Linked DNA regions of Homo sapiens. The protein of the gene in region 1 purifies or fractionates together with the protein of each later gene. This does not show direct contact. Each region holds a gene or a part of one and is shown on either strand. Other genes may lie near its edges.

The links.
Region 2: the proteins of RANBP3 (region 1) and RO60 fractionate together in Homo sapiens (co-fractionation; one large-scale study listed by BioGRID). This does not show direct contact.
Region 3: the proteins of RANBP3 (region 1) and KHK purify together in Homo sapiens (affinity purification with mass spectrometry, with the first as the bait; one large-scale study listed by BioGRID). This does not show direct contact.
Region 4: the proteins of RANBP3 (region 1) and RGPD1 fractionate together in Homo sapiens (co-fractionation; one large-scale study listed by BioGRID). This does not show direct contact.
Region 5: the proteins of RANBP3 (region 1) and PPAT fractionate together in Homo sapiens (co-fractionation; one large-scale study listed by BioGRID). This does not show direct contact.

Annotation. Positions count from the first base shown.
Region 1 is NC_000019.10:5,968,125-5,971,641, forward strand, and holds part of RANBP3 (ran-binding protein 3), read right to left. Parts: intron 1-3,517. UniProt on the Homo sapiens protein: Acts as a cofactor for XPO1/CRM1-mediated nuclear export, perhaps as export complex scaffolding protein. Bound to XPO1/CRM1, stabilizes the XPO1/CRM1-cargo interaction. In the absence of Ran-bound GTP prevents binding of XPO1/CRM1 to the nuclear pore complex.
Region 2 is NC_000001.11:193,080,105-193,083,621, reverse strand, and holds part of RO60 (RNA-binding protein RO60), read right to left. Parts: intron 2,259-3,517; coding exon 2,142-2,258; intron 1,437-2,141; coding exon 1,323-1,436; intron 1,061-1,322; coding exon 914-1,060; intron 1-913. UniProt on the Homo sapiens protein: RNA-binding protein that binds to misfolded non-coding RNAs, pre-5S rRNA, and several small cytoplasmic RNA molecules known as Y RNAs.
Region 3 is NC_000002.12:27,085,361-27,089,584, forward strand, and holds the start of KHK (ketohexokinase), read left to right. Parts: upstream 1-1,411; 5' UTR 1,412-1,899; coding exon 1,900-1,991; intron 1,992-4,224. Other genes in the region: EMILIN1 (EMILIN-1 precursor), read left to right, coding at 318-655. UniProt on the Homo sapiens protein: Catalyzes the phosphorylation of the ketose sugar fructose to fructose-1-phosphate.
Region 4 is NC_000002.12:86,948,618-86,952,134, reverse strand, and holds part of RGPD1 (RANBP2-like and GRIP domain-containing protein 1), read right to left. Parts: intron 840-3,517; coding exon 775-839; intron 1-774.
Region 5 is NC_000004.12:56,425,613-56,429,129, forward strand, and holds part of PPAT (amidophosphoribosyltransferase), read right to left. Parts: intron 3,394-3,517; coding exon of another isoform or gene 3,328-3,393; intron 1-3,327. Other genes in the region: PAICS (bifunctional phosphoribosylaminoimidazole carboxylase/phosphoribosylaminoimidazole succinocarboxamide synthetase), read left to right, coding at 3,328-3,393. UniProt on the Homo sapiens protein: Catalyzes the formation of phosphoribosylamine from phosphoribosylpyrophosphate (PRPP) and glutamine.

The DNA.
Region 1 (3,517 bases):
GCTGAGGCAACATGCAAGTGGCTGAAGACTCGGGAAAGTTCCAGTAGAGACAACAGGAATCCCCTCCTCTCTACACGGAAGCTTACAGGAAGGAAATCCAAGAACTACAGAATTTATGCTGAGGCAGCAGAGCAAAACTGATGATACTGGAGAGCGCGGGCTCTGGTCTTTGTGTGTGTTCAAACCTGCCCTGGCCACTTACTTGCGGTTGGGATCCCAGATAAGACAATGTACCTCTGGCACAATGTCTTCATTTGCATATCAGGGCTGTTATTTCACCCCAGGCAGCTTCGGCAAGGATGAAATGAAATGCTGCACATGCCGTGTTTGGGGAAGTGGTTGGCACACAGGATGATTCCACACTGGCACTGGTAGCATTATTATGCTCGGAAGATTGCAAACATATTGATGCCACCTTAAAGCATAGGCCTTGGATTCAAGGACAGCTGCCAGTGCCCGGCAACGACAAATGCGTCAGAGTCTGACCCCTTTTAGGGGGTGGAATGGTTGGATCCAAGAGCTGCCTGGACGCCTGGGACACTCAAGGCAAACGCTCAGGTGCTCGGAATGCCTGAGCCCTTCTGAGGTCACAGGAAACAGGTGGGATCTGAAGGCAGGCCGAGCCGAGCAGCCAAGCCTTGCTCTCACCAGCAGGATCTACCAAGCACAGACTTGTGCTAGGCACCGAGCTTGCCACTGGAGACAGGAAAGAAATGGCAGACAAGGCCGCAGCTCTCTACTGGGAAAGAGAAAACAAACAAGTACCTGCTGTGTGCAGAGATAACTGGGTAGTTCTGGAGCTGGGTGCTGCAGAGAAAATACCACAGGATGGTGGGAGAGAGTGAGTGAATGGGTAAGGCCTCGCTGAAGCTCACACATGAAGGGTGAGCAGGGATGAGCCAGGTGAAGGCAGGGGATCCCAGGCAGAGGGGACCCCAAGTCAAAGGTTCTAAGGAAAGGAAGAGCCTGGAGGCCCATGTTTGGAGGGGAGGAGAACGGGAAGGGCTGGGTGGAGCCCACAGGACGTTCAGCCTTGCAGGCCATGCTGACAAATCTGGATTTATCCAGTGTAAAGGTTGGGGCCCAGGCTCTGGACTCTTAGGACCCAGTGGCCATCACCATCAATGCTGCAAAACATCCTCTCTCCTCTGAGCAGAGGGTAACTGCCTGTTTTCTCACCCTCTCCCCCAGAGAAAGGCAAGTTCTCAAGGACCGTTTCCACTCACGCTCTGCTCTCACAGATGCAACGCAGGAATTAATTCTGGGTAAATAAGTTCCCAAAATTCTCTGTGGCAAACCTGGGGGAGTTTAATTTAGCAAAGGCATTTTAAACTTACTGCAAAAGGCAAGGCCTGCCTTCTAAACATGTGTATGGAGTAACTACTACTGTCTCTAGAATTTCCTCCCTTTCTTTGAACACCATAAACAGCGACAGCGAAATGCAGTGCCCTACGCGGGTCAGTTTTCAGGGGTGAACGAGTGCCCATTACCTAGAGTTTACTGACTCACCGGGAAGGACAAGCATGAACTCCTAGACTCCATGGCTGGAGACAGGCGCACTGGCCCTAGCCAGCCCTACCTGCTTCCATGGCCTCGGGCTTCAGCCCCTGTGAAATGGTGCAGCCAGGACTCAGGCATCCCTGAAGGTTCTTCCCAGCCCTTACATTCTGTCAGGTCCTCACCCTGGACCAGAGGCAGTGTTAAAGGTCAAGGAAAAGACTGTTCTTCCTGAAGAGGGATATGATGTCCATTGAGGCCTACTCAGCTGCCAAAAGGCCAGAATAGAAAAATAAGGTTGGGAGGAAGGGCCTTAAACTCTAGCTGGCAATTAATTTATTCCTGGGTAGGTTCCTTTGATCCTATGACCAGTGGTTCTCACCCAGGAGTAACTTCATCTCCCTGGAGACACTGGTCAAAATCTGGAGACATTGTGACTGTCATGTTTGTGGGGGTGTGGAGGAAACTGTTACAGACATCTAGTGGATGGAGACCAGGGATGCTGACCAACATCCTAGGAGGCTCAGAACAGTGCCCTACCAGCAAGTGACCCAAGTCCAAATGTCAACTGAGCTGAGGGCAAGAAACCTTGCATTAATCTTGGGCAAAAAAATTGAGCTGGATCTCTAACTCACATTATACACCAAAATAAATCCCCAATAGATTAGATGGCACAAACCAGGGTGACCCCCCACCCTGGCTTCTGGGATTCACCGCCTCTCTCCCTCCCCACTCAGACTGTGGCTTTAAATGTGTACAGGCTCCTACGACCTCAGTAGGTTAGATAACTATGGAACACAAAGTCTCTTGGGTGTCAATGAAATCCCATAACCCAATGGTTCTCAAGTGGGGGCAATTCTGACATTAAGGGGACACTGGACAGTGTCTGGAGACCTTTTATCTTCTCATGACTGGGAGTGGATGGGTGGGATGACTGGGTGCTATGGCATCACATGAGTAGAGGCTAGAGGGGCTACCCAACATCCTCCAAAGCACAAGATGGCCACCACCAGCCCCAATGTCAAGAATACTGAGGTGGAAAAACCCTGGTATAACTCACAGGGTGCTTTCTCTCTACTCAGGCATCCAATTAGGAGAATCACAGCTAGAAGTAACTGACATGTATCTCCACATTCCAGTAGGTCAATTACCAGAAGTATATTCTCTCTCACACCACAATCCTCAGACTTGCGTATCATCGTTCCCATTTTACAGATGCAAGAGCTAAGGTCAGACAACTTGCCCATGTTTCTAGGGCAGAAGGCAAGACACAAACCAAGGACAGCCAATCCAGGTGCTTCCAACCATGCCACAAGTTGCCAATGGGAACCTGCTGGTCAGCTCTGGTTTAGAATTCTCCCGATGTTGGCAAGGCAGCGGAGAAACCCACACTGTACACTGAGGCTCTGCTAGCACATGCCAGTGGTTCTCAAATTTCCTGGTCTCGGGACCCTTTTCCACGCTTGTCAATGACTGAACATCCCCAAGAGCTTTTGGAAATGTGGGATGTAGCTACTACTGACACCATATTAGAAATGAAACCTAAGACAATTTCAAAATACTTAAGATTATAATAAACTCCAGAAAGGTTTAGTTAAATAACATATTTTTATGAAAAATAAGTATTTAAAAAAATCTGAGAAGAGTGGCATTATTTTACATTTTGACAAATGTCTTTAACGTCTGACTTAATAGAAGATAGCTGAATTCTCTCTCTTTTTTTTTTATTAAAGAGAGGGGCTTTGTTGCCCAGGCTGGCTTTGAACTCCTGGGCTCAAGAGATCCTCCCACCTCAGCCTCCCAAGTAGCTGGGACTGCAGGTGTTTGCCACTGTGCCCGGCCTGAATTCTCTTATCTGCTTCTATAGTTCATCTGTTGGCATATCACACATCCAATAACCTCTGGAAAAAAACTCCACTGTCCATTTTCAAGTGAATAAGAGTGAAAAAAGAGCAGATAGTGTCTTTGTGTTGTTATGAAATAGTTTTGAACTTGCAGTCCCCTTGAAAAGGTCTTGGGG
Region 2 (3,517 bases), on another chromosome or scaffold:
TTGCATTTCTAATACGGTCGCAGGTGAGGCTAAGACTGCTGGTAGGGAAACCACACTTTGAGAACCACTACTCTTCATCAACAAGTTCTATTTCTACTTCTAGTCACACTAGCCATATTTTAAGTGCTCAAAAGTCCCATGTGATTAGTGGCAACCCACATTGGAGAGTGAAGATTTATGTCATTTCAGAAAGCTCAACTGGAGGATACTGATTAGAACACAGATATGTCCATAAAACATAGAGCATAGATTATAGCTTTAATTTTATGTAATCCTTTTGCAAAACTCACTAATACTTTCAATTTTTCAAGGAGCACACTGAATTATTAAAAAAAACTTACAGCTAAGGTAAAACAAATATTCTGATTATTACCAAAAATACTGTTTGCAAAGGATATTCTTAGTAATGTTTAGCAATGGAAACTGGTTAAAATAAATTTTATGTGTGTAATCAATACTTTTTCTTATTTTAAGTACTGCTGAGTCTATAACGGACACTGGCTCCTATATAAGATACAGAACTACTTGTAGTAACATTTTTTGAAACACATAAGTGAATAAGAATCAAGAATGGCCAGGTGTGGTGGCTGTAATCCCAGCACGTTGGGAAGCCAAGGCTGGAGAATCGCTTGAGCCTAGGAGTTTGAGACCAGCCTGGGCAACATGGTGAAACCCCATTCCTACAAAAAATTAGGTGGGCATGGTGGCACGCTCCTGTAGTTCCAGCTACTTGGGAGGCTGTGGTGGGAGAATCACTTAAGCCTGGGAGGTTGAGGTTGCAGTGAGCTATGACTGAGCCACTGCACTCCAGCCAGGGCAACAGAATGAGGTCCTGTCTCCAAAAAAAAAAAAAAAAAATCAAGTATTAAAATAATATTATTTGGGTGAGGAACCGTATTAGAATTTGTTTTACCTTTCGATACTCCCTCAGAGCAATAGCAGGATGGACACCTCCAGCAAAGGTCTCATTATCAGTGAATACAATGAAGACATCAGCAGGTGTGTTTGTCTTCTGAGCCCAGATCATTGGAAGAGAGCAATCAGTTCCACCTGCTGGGATCTAATTCGGAACAAAAGCATGAATAAATAAGTAAATAAATCCTTAAAAATACTAGTTTTTACAGTATCATTTTGTTTAGCACCAATATATACAGCCTTCCCAAAGCCTGCATATATATTTTCGGTTTTGTACTTGTCATGCAAAAATTAAGACAAAAAAAATTTTGTTCTCACAGATTAATACCATACATGACATCAATATAAAATCATTCTACACGTTATGTAAACTTAACTAAGTAAACTTAAAAAACACAGTTTCTTACCTGACTCATAGCCATTAAAACCTGTTGTAAGGTCATATCTGTAGTCACTGGACATGGTACCATTTCATCGGAAAAAGCAACTACATAAGAATCTTTTTCTGTTCGTGTGACAACCTGAAAAATTCAATGGCAGTAATTTTCAGCAAATTTGGGGGGAAATACAATATTTTGAATTTTATCCAACTTCATGTTTAAAAGAAACACTGATGTTTATTTCTTAACTTTTTATTAGTGTGTTTTAGAACTATACATTAACAGTAGTACAGCTTTCAAAGTACTTTCACAAAAAAACTGGCTATCATGACTATCCTTTGAAGCAAATACAGTAAATATTCTTCTCATTTCATTAGATAAGAAATAAAGCCCCAGTAAAGAAGCTAAAAAGTTTGCCTACTATTCATCTGTTTGTTATTCACTGACAGGATAGAACTAAAGTCTCTAGACACTCCTATTAGTTCCCAGATCTTTTAAGCTTCAAATCGTTAAATAATTTAAGCATTATTTTTAAAATAAATTTTTAAAAAATTTGTCTTTTTTTCATTTTATCTAAGCATTATCTACTTCCTAAAAAATCCATTAATATTTAATCTTTTGTTGTAAAAATTAAAATTTCTACTCTGCTTGTTCTTTAGACATACTTTTTCAACACACTTAACACTCTGGCTTTACACAATTATCTTTAAATATAAAATTAAAAATGTGACAAGCTGAAATGACAGAAAAAAGTGAAAACATAATTCTTAATCATTATTAATCTTATAGTTTTGCTCTACAGTAAACATGTTTTTAGAATGGCAAAATTGTCTTAGGTGTTCTCACCATGCACATTGCTGCAGCAACTGTACTAGCGTTGAGTATACTACCCAAAACTCTTTGGTTCATAGAAGCACTGACATCAACAGCTAGTAAGAAACGTTTTCCAGTTGGTTCAACTGTCTACAGAGAAAACAAAACAATCATTAAAAGCATAACAGAAATTATAAGTAGACTAAATTTCTAAATCATATTTACTTATCTTACATTAAAAAGACTGATAAAAGGCCTTCAGATTTTTGATATACCAATTGACAACTATTTAAAAATGCTCATCTGGCATAGCAGCTATGACTGAAAATTAAAAAAAAATAATAAAAATACTTAGCTTTTACAGGTAAAACAAAGGAAATAACCTATTCAATAATTTTAGTTAAATAAGTTACCATCCTATTTTTAAAATCTTTCCTCATTGAAGTAAAATGAGAATTTTTAGTAGGAAATTTTTATTGTGGTAAAATATAACATAAATTTGACCTTTTTAACCATTTTTAGATGTACAATTTGGTGGCATTAAGTACATTCGCAATGTTGTGTAACTATCACCTCTATCTATTTCAAGAACTTTTTCATCATCCCAAATAGAACTTGTACCAATTAGGTAGTAACTCCCCATTGCCATGTCTCTCCCTAGCCCCTGGCAACTTCTATTCCACTTTCTGTCTCTATAAATTTTCCTGCTGTAGATATCTCATATAATGGAATCATACAATACTTGTCCTTGTTTGTCTGGCTTATTTTACTTAGTATAATCTTTTCGAGATTTATCCATGGTGTAGCATGTATCAAATTTAATTCTTTTCTAAGGCTGAATAATATTCCATTATATATACCACATTTTGCTTATCCATCTGCTGATGAACATTTGGGTTGTTCATCAAAATCAGTTGTATTTCTATATACTAGCAATGAACAATTCAAAAAAGAAAACTAAGAAAACATTTGTTCACAATAGCATCAAAAATAAAAGACAAGAATACATTTAACTCTTGGCTATTGTGAATAATGCTACTGTGACTACTGGTATACAGATATCTGTTTGAATACCTGTTTACAATTCTTTTGGGTATATACCTAGAAATGGAATTGCTGGATGGTATGGTAATTCTACGTTTAACCTTTTGAGAACTGCCAAATTGTTTTCCACAGGGGCTACACCATTTTACCATTTTACATTCCCACCAGAAATACACTAGGGTTCCAATTTCTCCACATCTTCCCCAACTCTTGTTTTCTGCTTTTTTGATATTAGCTATCCAACTAGATGTGAAGTAGTTATTACACTGTCATCTTGATTTGCATTTCTCTGATTATTAATGATGTTGAGTATTTTTCATGTTTTTTTTTTGTTTTTTGAGACAGAGTTTCACTCTTGTTGCCCA
Region 3 (4,224 bases), on another chromosome or scaffold:
CCCATTCTTGCCTTTTCCGACAGTGTGAATCTTCATTCTCTGATTTGGGGAGACCCCGGCTCTTTCTTCATTTATTCATTCTCAGGCAGTGGGGAGAAGAAGTAGTCATTCATTCATTCAGCAGATCTTTACTGGGGCCTGCTCCTGCCCAGGCACTGTTTTAAGTGCTGGGAATGCATAGTGAACAAAGCCCCCAGTTCCCTGCCGCTCACATTCCAGTGAGGTGAAAAGACCCAGAGGGTCCCTCCTCAGTCCAGGAGTTCTGGTGCGCTCCCCGGAGCTTCCCTGGCCCCCCTGACTGCTATCCTTGTCCCCAGGCGTGTTCACAGCGCCACTGGCTGGACGCTACTTGCTGAGCGCGGTGCTGACTGGGCACCGGCACGAGAAAGTGGAGGCCGTGCTGTCCCGCTCCAACCAGGGCGTGGCCCGCGTAGACTCCGGTGGCTACGAGCCTGAGGGCCTGGAGAATAAGCCGGTGGCCGAGAGCCAGCCCAGCCCGGGCACCCTGGGCGTCTTCAGCCTCATCCTGCCGCTGCAGGCCGGGGACACGGTCTGCGTCGACCTGGTCATGGGGCAGCTGGCGCACTCGGAGGAGCCGCTCACCATCTTCAGCGGGGCCCTGCTCTATGGGGACCCAGAGCTTGAACACGCGTAGACTGGGGTCCCGCCCGACGTGTCTACGTCGGCTGAAGAGACAGCGGGGGCGGCGGGCTCCTGGGGTCTCGCCTGAGACGGGGCACCTAGCCCTGGGCGAGCGCCGCACCCGGGCCCGCAGCGGCACCGCGCCCAGAGCGGCCTCTCCCCACGCCCGGGGCGCGCCGGCTCAGGGAGGCTCGGGGCCGCCCATGCAGACTTTTGGCCTGGCGCGATCCCCCAAGAACCCCTCCAGGGCCGGCCTGCGGAGGAGCCGATCCTCGCACCCTCCGCTCCCTCCACTGGCCCTCCAGGTCGATTCCCTGGGCTCCAGGCTCCCCCGCGCGGGCGCCGCCCACCGCCATACTAAACGATCGAGGAATAAAGACACTTGGTTTTTCTAAAAAAAACTAAACGAACCGTTCTGCTACGGTACGGGGTCGGGGGCTGCCGGGCGTGCACAGGGCACGGGGCGGGAGAGACGACGGCCTCCGGAGAGGACCCCGGGTTCCGCACTGCGTTCGCCGCCTCCGCCCGGCTCGGGGCGGCTCGGGGTTGGCTCAGGCAGCAAGCGGCGCCCGCCCGGCTCCTGCGACGTCTCCCCCGTGTCACGCCCGTTTCGCCGGCGTCCGCCAGGGGGCGCTCTGCGTTCCCGCCACGTGAGGCTGCGGCCCACCCGGCGGGTCCTGCTCCTCCGCGGCGGAGGCGTGGCCTCGGCTGGGACTAACCGGGGCGGGGCGGGGCGGGGCGGGGCGGGGCCGCCGCGACCGCGGGCTTCAGGCAGGGCTGCAGATGCGAGGCCCAGCTGTACCTCGCGTGTCCCGGGTCGGGAGTCGGAGACGCAGGTGCAGGAGAGTGCGGGGCAAGTAGCGCATTTTCTCTTTGCATTCTCGAGATCGCTTAGCCGCGCTTTAAAAAGGTTTGCATCAGCTGTGAGTCCATCTGACAAGCGAGGAAACTAAGGCTGAGAAGTGGGAGGCGTTGCCATCTGCAGGCCCAGGCAACCTGCTACGGGAAGACCGGGGACCAAGACCTCTGGGTTGGCTTTCCTAGACCCGCTCGGGTCTTCGGGTGTCGCGAGGAAGGGCCCTGCTCCTTTCGTTCCCTGCACCCCTGGCCGCTGCAGGTGGCTCCCTGGAGGAGGAGCTCCCACGCGGAGGAGGAGCCAGGGCAGCTGGGAGCGGGGACACCATCCTCCTGGATAAGAGGCAGAGGCCGGGAGGAACCCCGTCAGCCGGGCGGGCAGGAAGCTCTGGGAGTAGCCTCATGGAAGAGAAGCAGATCCTGTGCGTGGGGCTAGTGGTGCTGGACGTCATCAGCCTGGTGGACAAGTACCCTAAGGAGGACTCGGAGATAAGGTAGGGGCGCCCAGGTCCCCTAGGGGACCCCAGGGGCTGCTGCAGTCCAGCATTTGTGCCAGCGACCGAGGCTGCAGAGACCCCGCAGTGAGGCCCTGAGAACCCGGCTTCAAGGCCGGACCCGCGCCCTCTACCCGGGAATCCTGGGGGGGCTCCCAGCATGACAGAAGAGAGGAAGGAATTGAGGCCTTTAATAAGAAGACCCAGGATTTAATAGCATCGTGTTAGCCAATTTCCATTTCAACTCAGGCATCAGGTGTCAGGTGTCAGGCATCAGGATCCCCATTTTACTGATAAGTATAGATTCAGAGACCAAGGGGCTTATCCAGGGGCACACAGCTACCTGCTTCTGCTGTTTCTTTTTAAACCCCAAGCCTATGCACTTGCCTCTCATCAACATTTACTTCTAACTTATTTATCCACATATCTCGCACCTATTTCTGAGAAAGATTTGAGGTAGCTTACAGTAAAAAGTATGTACAGTTAAACTGTTGGAGAACATTTAAGACCATGGTATTTGAGCTTCAACTATAGCTCAGGGCTTGCTGGCACTGGAGGCAAACATGAGATGCCATGGGTTATGTATGGATAGAGCTGGTTCATGAGCCCTGGCAAGCTTTTTCCTGGTGCTAAATTCCAAGAGGAGTTTACCAGAAGTCCTTTTCACAGAGGTCAATGAACACCGTTTAGTAGTGGGAAATATCTTTCTCAGTTGTCTGCTAGAAACTGAAGAGTCAGTTGTTGGTTCTTTTTTTTTTTTTTTTTTTTTTTTTTTGAGACAGGGTCTCATTCTGTCGTCCAGGCTGGAGTGCAGTGGTGCAACCATGCTCACTGCAGCCTTGACCTCCAGACTCAAGTGATCCTCCCACCTCAGCCTCCTGAGTAGCTGGGACCACACATGCACGTCACCATCCCAGCTGTATTTTAAATTTTGTATAAGGGACGGGTTCTCACTATACTGATCAGAGTGGTCTTGAGCTCCTGGGCTCAAGCAGTCCTCCTGCTTTGGCCTCTCAAAGTACTGGGATTACAGGCATGAGCCACTGCACCCAGCCGATTTGTTGGTTCTTTTTCTTTTTGAGACAGAGTCTCGCTCTGTTGCCCAGGCTGGAATGCAGTGGCATGATCTTGGCTCACTGCAACCTCCGCCTCCTGGATTCAAGCGATTCTCCTGCCTCAACCTCCTGGGTAGCTGGGATTATAGGCATACGCCACCATGCCCCACTAATTTTTTTTTTCTTTTGTAGAGACAGGGCTTTTCTTTGTAAAGACATGTTGGCCATGCTGGTCTCAAACTTCTAATCTCAAGTGATCTGCCCGTCTCAGTCCCCCAAAGTGCTGGGATTACAGGCATGAGCCACCACACCCGGCTTATTGGTTCTTGTATTTCCTCTTGATAAGGGCCCCACCATTACACTGTAATGCTGTGAAGGCATTTCTGTGGGGCGGGACACTAGCTTTCTCTTGGTGCAGTCAGTGAGTGCTTAGAACACTGAGAATTGCTCCTGGGCTATATCAGTTGTCGCAGCTAAGAACTGGATAAGAGGCAGTTCAAGACTGAACTCCACAAAGACACGACAGTGCTGATGGCTGCCAGGCTAACTGAGGTGAGAGACCCCGACACTCCTCAGGCTTTGGGGCCACAAAGCACCATCACATATATTATTTTATACTCTCCTCCCAGCAGCCCATGGGAACTGTGTAAAGATCAGTGAAATCCTTTATACAGATAAGGAAGCTGAAGATTTGGAGATGTTTTTTAAGGCCACGGAGTTAAATGGTGGCACAGTGGCAGCTGCAGCTCGAGTCTCCTAGTGTGGAGTCCAGGGTCCCTGCCCTCTGTCATCTCCTGTATACCCTGTCCCTTTGCTGTTGACCATCTCTTGGAGTTGACCCTTTGCTTTGGTTTGCCAGAGGTTAGGGCCCCTTGCCAGGGGTGCAGGGACTGGGGAAGGGGCACGGGCATGCCACTGTGTAGACCTAACCCACTGTGCAAGGTCGAGGCAGCCACAGGACATGGCACTCAGTGAGGAGTTGGGTTCATCTCAGGGCAACAGTGCAAATTCCAGGGCCACAGGTTCTCCAAGGACCGTGGAGAGCCTGGGAAAAGACTCAGCGCCTCTTTCTGTCAGAGCTGAAGTCCCATTTCCTCTCAGCTTAATTCTGTCGGGAAGGTAGGAGAAGGAGGTCCTGCTAGCACCCACACTGATGGGGCAGGTTCTGAAGGTGGGCA
Region 4 (3,517 bases), on another chromosome or scaffold:
GAGGCAGGCAGACTGCTGTGCTCAGAAGTTCAAGACTAGCCTGGGCAACATAGTGACACCTGTCTCTACCAAAAAATGCAAACCTTAGCCAGGTGTGGTGGTGCTCATCTGTATCCCCAGCTACTTGGGGCGCTGAGGTGGGAAGATCTCTTGAGCCCAGAAGGCAGAGGTTACAGTGAGCAAAGATGGAGCCAGCTGCTGCACTCCAGCCTGAGCAAGAGAGACAGATACTGCCTAAAAAAAAAAAAAAAAAAAAAAAAACCCTGCCTCCCTCTTAATTTCCTGCTTTAATCCACTCCCAGTCAGGAAATCAGAATCACCAAGCTTCTTATCCCTAGGATAGAGCCTTAGAGCATCACATATTGTGTCAATTAAAGATCTTTTATACAAGCTATTCTCCTGCCTTACAATTACAGTTTTTTATTCATTGCTATTTTCCATCTGATTAAGGTATCAGATATCTAACCAAAAACAAATGAAGATATAGGCATGGTCCTCTTTTACTCCAACAGAAGACAATTTTTAGAAAAAGTGTTTTAAGCCAAACAATTTCTTGCCCTTGGTATAAAGCAGCAGCATGCAGAAAACACTAATTACGGTTTCAATCTCAATGGAATCTAGGCTGGTCCTTAGCATCAGTCTGAGTGATAAATCCCTTATTCCAGAATACACTTAGGAAGAACTACTAAGAACATATTTTTACCTATTTCAAAGAAGAAAATGAGAAAAGGCATTGATTTTAAAAAAAGAATACATGTTACAGTTTGTACTTACTTTTTAGCAAGATCATATTCTTTAGCTTCATAATACAGCTTTGCAAAATAGAATCCTCTCAACTTCTAAAAAAAATTAAAAGTTGTTTTACGTTTCATACAGAAATATTCTCCAACATTTTTTCAAAAGTAGTAAAAATCTGCCCTAAGTTTATGTTCAAATATGCCATTTTCATTCACTTAAAAGTTTTTTTTAAAGCCTGACAAATGCATAATTCCATGTTTTATAATTTCCTATCACAAAACAAAAAATAGAGCTGGGTGCAGCGGCTCATGCCTGTAATCCCAGCACTTTGGGAGGCCGAAGTGGGCGGATCACCTGAGGTCAGGAGTTTGAGACCAGCCTGGCGTTATAACATGGTGAAACTCCGTCTCTACAAAAATAGAAAAATTAGCCAGGCATGATGGCGGGTGCCTGTAATCCCAGCTACTCGGGAGGCTAAGGCACGAGAATCAGTTGAACCCAGGAGGTGGAGGTTGCAGTGAGCCAGAGGTTGCAGTCAGCTGAGATCGTGCCATCGCACTCCAGCCTGGGCGACAGAGACTCCATCTCCCAAACATCATCATCATCGTCATCATAAATAAGCTGGGTGCAGTTGGTCACACCTTTAATTCTATTTAATTCTAGCACTTTCAGAGACCAAGGTGGGAGGCTAGCTTTGAGGCCAAGAGTTTGAAACCAGCCTGTGCAACACAACAAGATCCTGTCTCCAGGGGGAAAAAAATAGCCAGGCATAGTGGAGCATGCCTGTGTTCCTAGCTACTCAGGAGGCCAAGGAAGGAGAATCACTTGAGCCCAGGAGGTTGACACTGCCGTGAGTTATGACTGTGACACTGCACTCCAGCCTGGGTGACACAGGGAGATCCTGTCTCTAAATAATAAATACATAACATACAAAAAATAAATTCAAGAAAGCAAGACAAGCAGACAACAGAAGTTAAGAATTTTCATCAGCCTTGGAAATCTTGGAAACCCTGTGGTACCACTCTCTCACTTAACAAACAAAAGAAACCAGCTTTCTTTGGGGAGGAAAGGTATTCCAGAAATCTCTTCTCCTACCATGTGTAAGCCTCTATGGGAAAGAATAAGTAAGTACTTACGATCTATTAAGGCACTGAGGATTCCCTGTGCCTTAATAGTACATGTACTGTTCTCTCTACAGATCAGATCAGTATTTTACAGTCAAGGAGTCAAAAAGGCAGAAATAAATATTGAATTCTTCAAGTAATAAACAAGGTCCACAGCCTGGCTCCTTGGTTACGTAAACTCCAAAGTCCAAAATGCTGATGCACACCAGGCTGGGTGCGGTGGCTCACACCTGTAATCCCAGCACTTTCGGAGACTGAGGCGGGTGGATCACTTGAAGCCAAGAGTTCGAGACCAGCCTGGCCAACATGCAGAAACCTCCTTTCTACTAAAAATACAAAAATTAGCTGGGCATGGTGGCACACGCCTGTAATCCCCGCTGCTTGGGAGGCTGAGGCAAAGAATCGCCTGAACCCGGGAGGCAGCAGTGGGCCAAGACCGCACCACTGCACTCCAGCCTGGGCAACAGAATGATTCCATCTCAAAAAAAAAAAAAAAAAAAAAAAAAAAAGCTGATACAACCAGAGTATGTTCCATCCATGTGATAAAGAGTATACAGCCACTCAAACATCTTATTTTTGAAATTCCAAGACCCCAGTGAATGTCCAAAACGATGAACAGTATCAAACCAGGTTGCCATCAATCGAAACATGTTTCCTGTTTGTGTCCTCCACCCACAAATTTAATGTCTTGTCCATCTCAACAAAGCACTTATCACACACTGTGGCTGTAACTTTTGCAGTTTGGGGTGTCACAACAAAACTAGCACAAATTTCTTTTTCCTTCTTCACAATTTCATGGACAAAAGATTTGTTCTTACCGTAGATCTTAGCAACCCCAGTATACGATCTTTTTTCTTTCCTAAGTCAAAAACTCACCTCTTCACTTAAAGGAAGCACTATATGGCTTCTCTCTGGCATATGTGAACTGCCAGCATCGCTATTCTTGCTCTTTGGTGCCATTTTAAATAAAATAAGGGTTACTTGAACACAAGCACTGCAATACTCCAACAACTGATCTGATAACTGAGATGGCTAGTATGTAACTAGCGGGTGGGGAGCACATACAGCATGAATATATTGGACAAAGGGATGATTCGTGTCCTGGGTAGGACGGAGCAGGAGGCTGTGAGATTTTTATCATGTTATTCAGAACTGTTTGCAATTTAAAACTCATGAAATGTTTATTTATATAATCTTCCATTCAATATTTTTGGACCACGGGTGACGCAGGTAAGTAAAACCACGTAAGGCAATACTGTGGATAAGAAGGGACTACTGTACCAGCAACGAACAATCAGAAAAGGAAATTAAGAAAGCAATTCCATTTACAATCGCATCTAAATGAAAAAAATGCCTGGGAATAAATGTAAACAAGGAGGTGAGAGACTTGTATGCTTAAATTACAAAACGTTGCTCAATGCCAGGCTAACACCTGCAATCCCAGCACTGGCGACAGAGCAAGACTCCATCTCAAAAAAAAAAGAACTATAGCAATCTTAACAAAAATAATACACAACAGTCAGGACAGCACATAAAGGAACAAGGCTTGTTCCCCGCTTCCTTTTTTTTTTTGAGATGGAGTCTTGCTCTGTCGCCAGGCTGGAGTGCGGTGGCTCGATCTCAGCTCACTGCAACCTCTGCGTCCCGGGTACAAG
Region 5 (3,517 bases), on another chromosome or scaffold:
AACAACCTTTGGAACTTCCAGAGACAGAGGCATCTTTGTTGTGTTAATGAGGCTACTCTAGGTGGGTTCCCAGATAGCTTCAGGATAGGGGGTAGTCACCGAAAAAGACCGACCATGTGATGAGGGTTGGAGCTTTGTGCCAGTGTGACCTCCATGAAGGAGAGTGGGGCTGGAGGTTGAGTTCCATCTTGCAGCCAATGACTTAATCAATCACATCATAAAAACTCTGGCTTAGAGGAAGATTTGGAAGCTCCGTACAATGCAGTTCATGTTTCCTTAGTTCCTTTATAACTTCCCACAGACATCACTGCATTAACCTCTACACTTGACTTGTCTTTACTTTTCTATTCTCAAACCTCAGCAACTTTTCTGAGATGTGATTTACATACAATCAAATTCACCCAACTAAAGCGTATAACTGTGGTTTTTAGTATATCCACAGTTATACAATAATCACCAGTATCCCATTTTAGAACATTTTGATCACCCCACAAAGAAATCCCGTATCTGCCAGGCACGGTGGCTAACGCCTGTAATCCCAACACTGTGGGAGGCCAAGGCAGGCAGAACACGAGGTCAAGAGATCAAGACCATCCTGGCCAACATGGTGAAACCCCATCTCTACTAAAAATACAAAAATTAGCTGGGCGTGGTGGCCGCGCACCTGTGGTCTCAGCTACTCGGGAGGCTGAGGCAGGAGAATCACTTGAACCCAGGAGGCGGAGGTTGCAGTGAGCCGTGGTCACACCACTGCACTCCAGCCTGGGCGACTGAGCAAGACTCTGTCTCAAAAAAAAAAAAGAAAGAAACCCCATATCCATCAGTAGTTTAACTGCTTGACCACACCTCTGTAACCCCTGACAACCACTAACCAACTTTCTGTTTCTAAGAATTTGCCTATTCTGGACATGAGTGGTACCCTCCAATATACATTTTTGTGTCTGGCTTCTTTTGTTTCACGGTTCATCCACGTTGTAGCATATATCAGTATTTCATTCCTTTTTATGGCTGAATAATATTCCAATTTACAGATATACCATATTTTGTTTTCCCACTTATCAACTGACAGACATTTGGGTCACTGCCATTTTCTGGCTCCTATGAATACTGTTGCTATGAACATTCTGGTACAATTTTTTTCCCATTTTGGTAAAATATACATAAAATATTTACCATTATACCCATAAGTACGTTCACGTTGTTGTGCAAACATCACCACTCTCCATCTCCAGAGCTTTTTCATCATTCCAAACTGAAACTTCTGTAGCCATTAAACAATAACTCCTCCATCCCAACTCTCCTTAGCCTGTGGTGACCACTATTCTCCTTTCCATCTTTGTGAATTTGACTATTCTAGGTACCTCATATAAGTGGAATCATACAATATTCGTCCATTTGTGCCTGGCTTATTTCACTTATAATATCTTTAGGGCTCCTCCATGTTGTAGCATTTATCAGAATTTCCTTCATTTTAATATTCCATTGTATGGATACACCATTTTGTTTATTCATCCATCGATGGTTATCTGGGTTGTTTCTGCCTTTCGGCTATTATCAATAACTCTGCTATGAATGTGGATGTATAAATATCTGCTTGAGTCCCTGCTTTCAATTCTTTTGGGTATATACCCAGAAGCGAAATTGTTGATCATATGGTAATTTGTGTTTAATTTTTTTAGGACCTGCAGTACTGTTTTTCCACAGCATGTATATGTTTTTATGTGAACATGTTTTCAGTTCTTCTGGGTTTATATGTAGGAGTGGAATTGCTTGGTCATATGGCATATGCTGAAAGTTTCTGAGGAACTACCTGTTTTCCACCATGACTTCACCATTTTACATTTCTATCACCATCTTTTAAAAATTATATCCAACAAGAGTGATTTAAACACATTTTCAAATTTCCATGAGGCACTAGGCATGGTGGTAGGCACCTGTAGTGCCAGCTACTTGGGAGGCTGAGGCAGGAGGATCGCTTGAGCTCAGGAGGTCCACGCCAGCCTCGGCAACATAGTGAGACCCTGTCTCTTAAAAAAAAAAAAAAAAAATTCATAAGGCTGAAAAATTATTCAGAATTAAAACCTAGGAGAATTTAAGATGAGAGGAACTCACTGTTAGAAAGCATTGTGGAGTATGCCTTCCCCCTGTCACCCCCTGCTGCACATCATCACCCCAAAATAATACTGGGTCCACTGCAGGGTCTAAATTGGTAAATTTTAAATGTCATTTTGATATATGAAGTCTAACAGAGAAGATCTCTATTGTGTATTACCTAAAATGCTTCCTTATACCTGAGTTGGTAGAGAATACAGTAGAGAAAGAAGGAAAATGTCTATGCCCACTTCTCACTAAAAGAAATTTAGTAAACACTGGGACTTTCCATATTCACAAATATCCAGTGAAGATCACCTATGATGAAAAGCAGCTAAATTTTCTCACTAATAATGAGAACAGTCTGTCTTATAATTTTTAGAATATACTGTTTGAATATGGACACAAAATTTCTTTTGACTCATATTGAAGTTATTATTGTATTCTTGGTACTTTATGCCATCACAGTTGCTTTAAGTGAATGATAATCAAATACAAGATTTATCTATGTTTGAATAATTATAAATCATGTTGATTTGTAGGTAATCCTTTAGAAGATGCTAAAAGTCATTTACAGATTATAACAGTGAGTAACACAGAGGCCGGAAAATACTGGTGTGACAGTGAGGTCAGAGCATTGATATGGTCTGATGAAAAAATTAAGCGAATGCTTGAAGGGGCCACAAGAAACAAGAAAATATTTGAGGAAATTGCCAGAAGATTAATTAATGCAGTTTGGGATAGACAGAGACCGGAAACAATGTCATACGAAATATAAAAATGTAAAATATGAATATAGCATTTTACAAAGAAAAAATGGCAACCCTCCAAGAAAAATGAGATTTTATGAAGAAGTTGACTGCATCCTAAGAAAACCAACTCTCAGAACTGCCAAATGGAGACATGGTAACTTTGGAATTGACATTAACAAAAAAAATTCTAGACATTCCTCTTTGCATTTTCATTTAGCAAGAGAAAAACTCTTTAAAAATGAAATCCTTACACTATTGTATGCTCAAATGACCCTTAAAAATCATTAAAAATAGGTACCTAATTTAAGCCAAGAGTTTCAACTTTTTTCTAAACCTTGTACCAAAATATTCCTAATTCTTAACTCATTCTTTATTTGTCCATCTGCTTAAGTTTTCTTATTTTAGTATACCTGAATGCTTGAAAACCATTAATGTGTTTCAAATGATGTCACATAATGATTCTTTTCCTGTGTTTTTATTTAAGAATTATTTGAAGGTCACAACAAAAGCCAAGGAACTTTGAGCTTCAAGAGAAAAGCACATGAAGATGGTAAGAGCCAGAGAAATAACAAGTTCTTCCACACAGTGGAAACAACTTGTTGCTTTTTCCTGATAACAGAGATATTTATTCCTGTCCTTGATAAATTAGACTAAATATATTGTTTATGAACTGT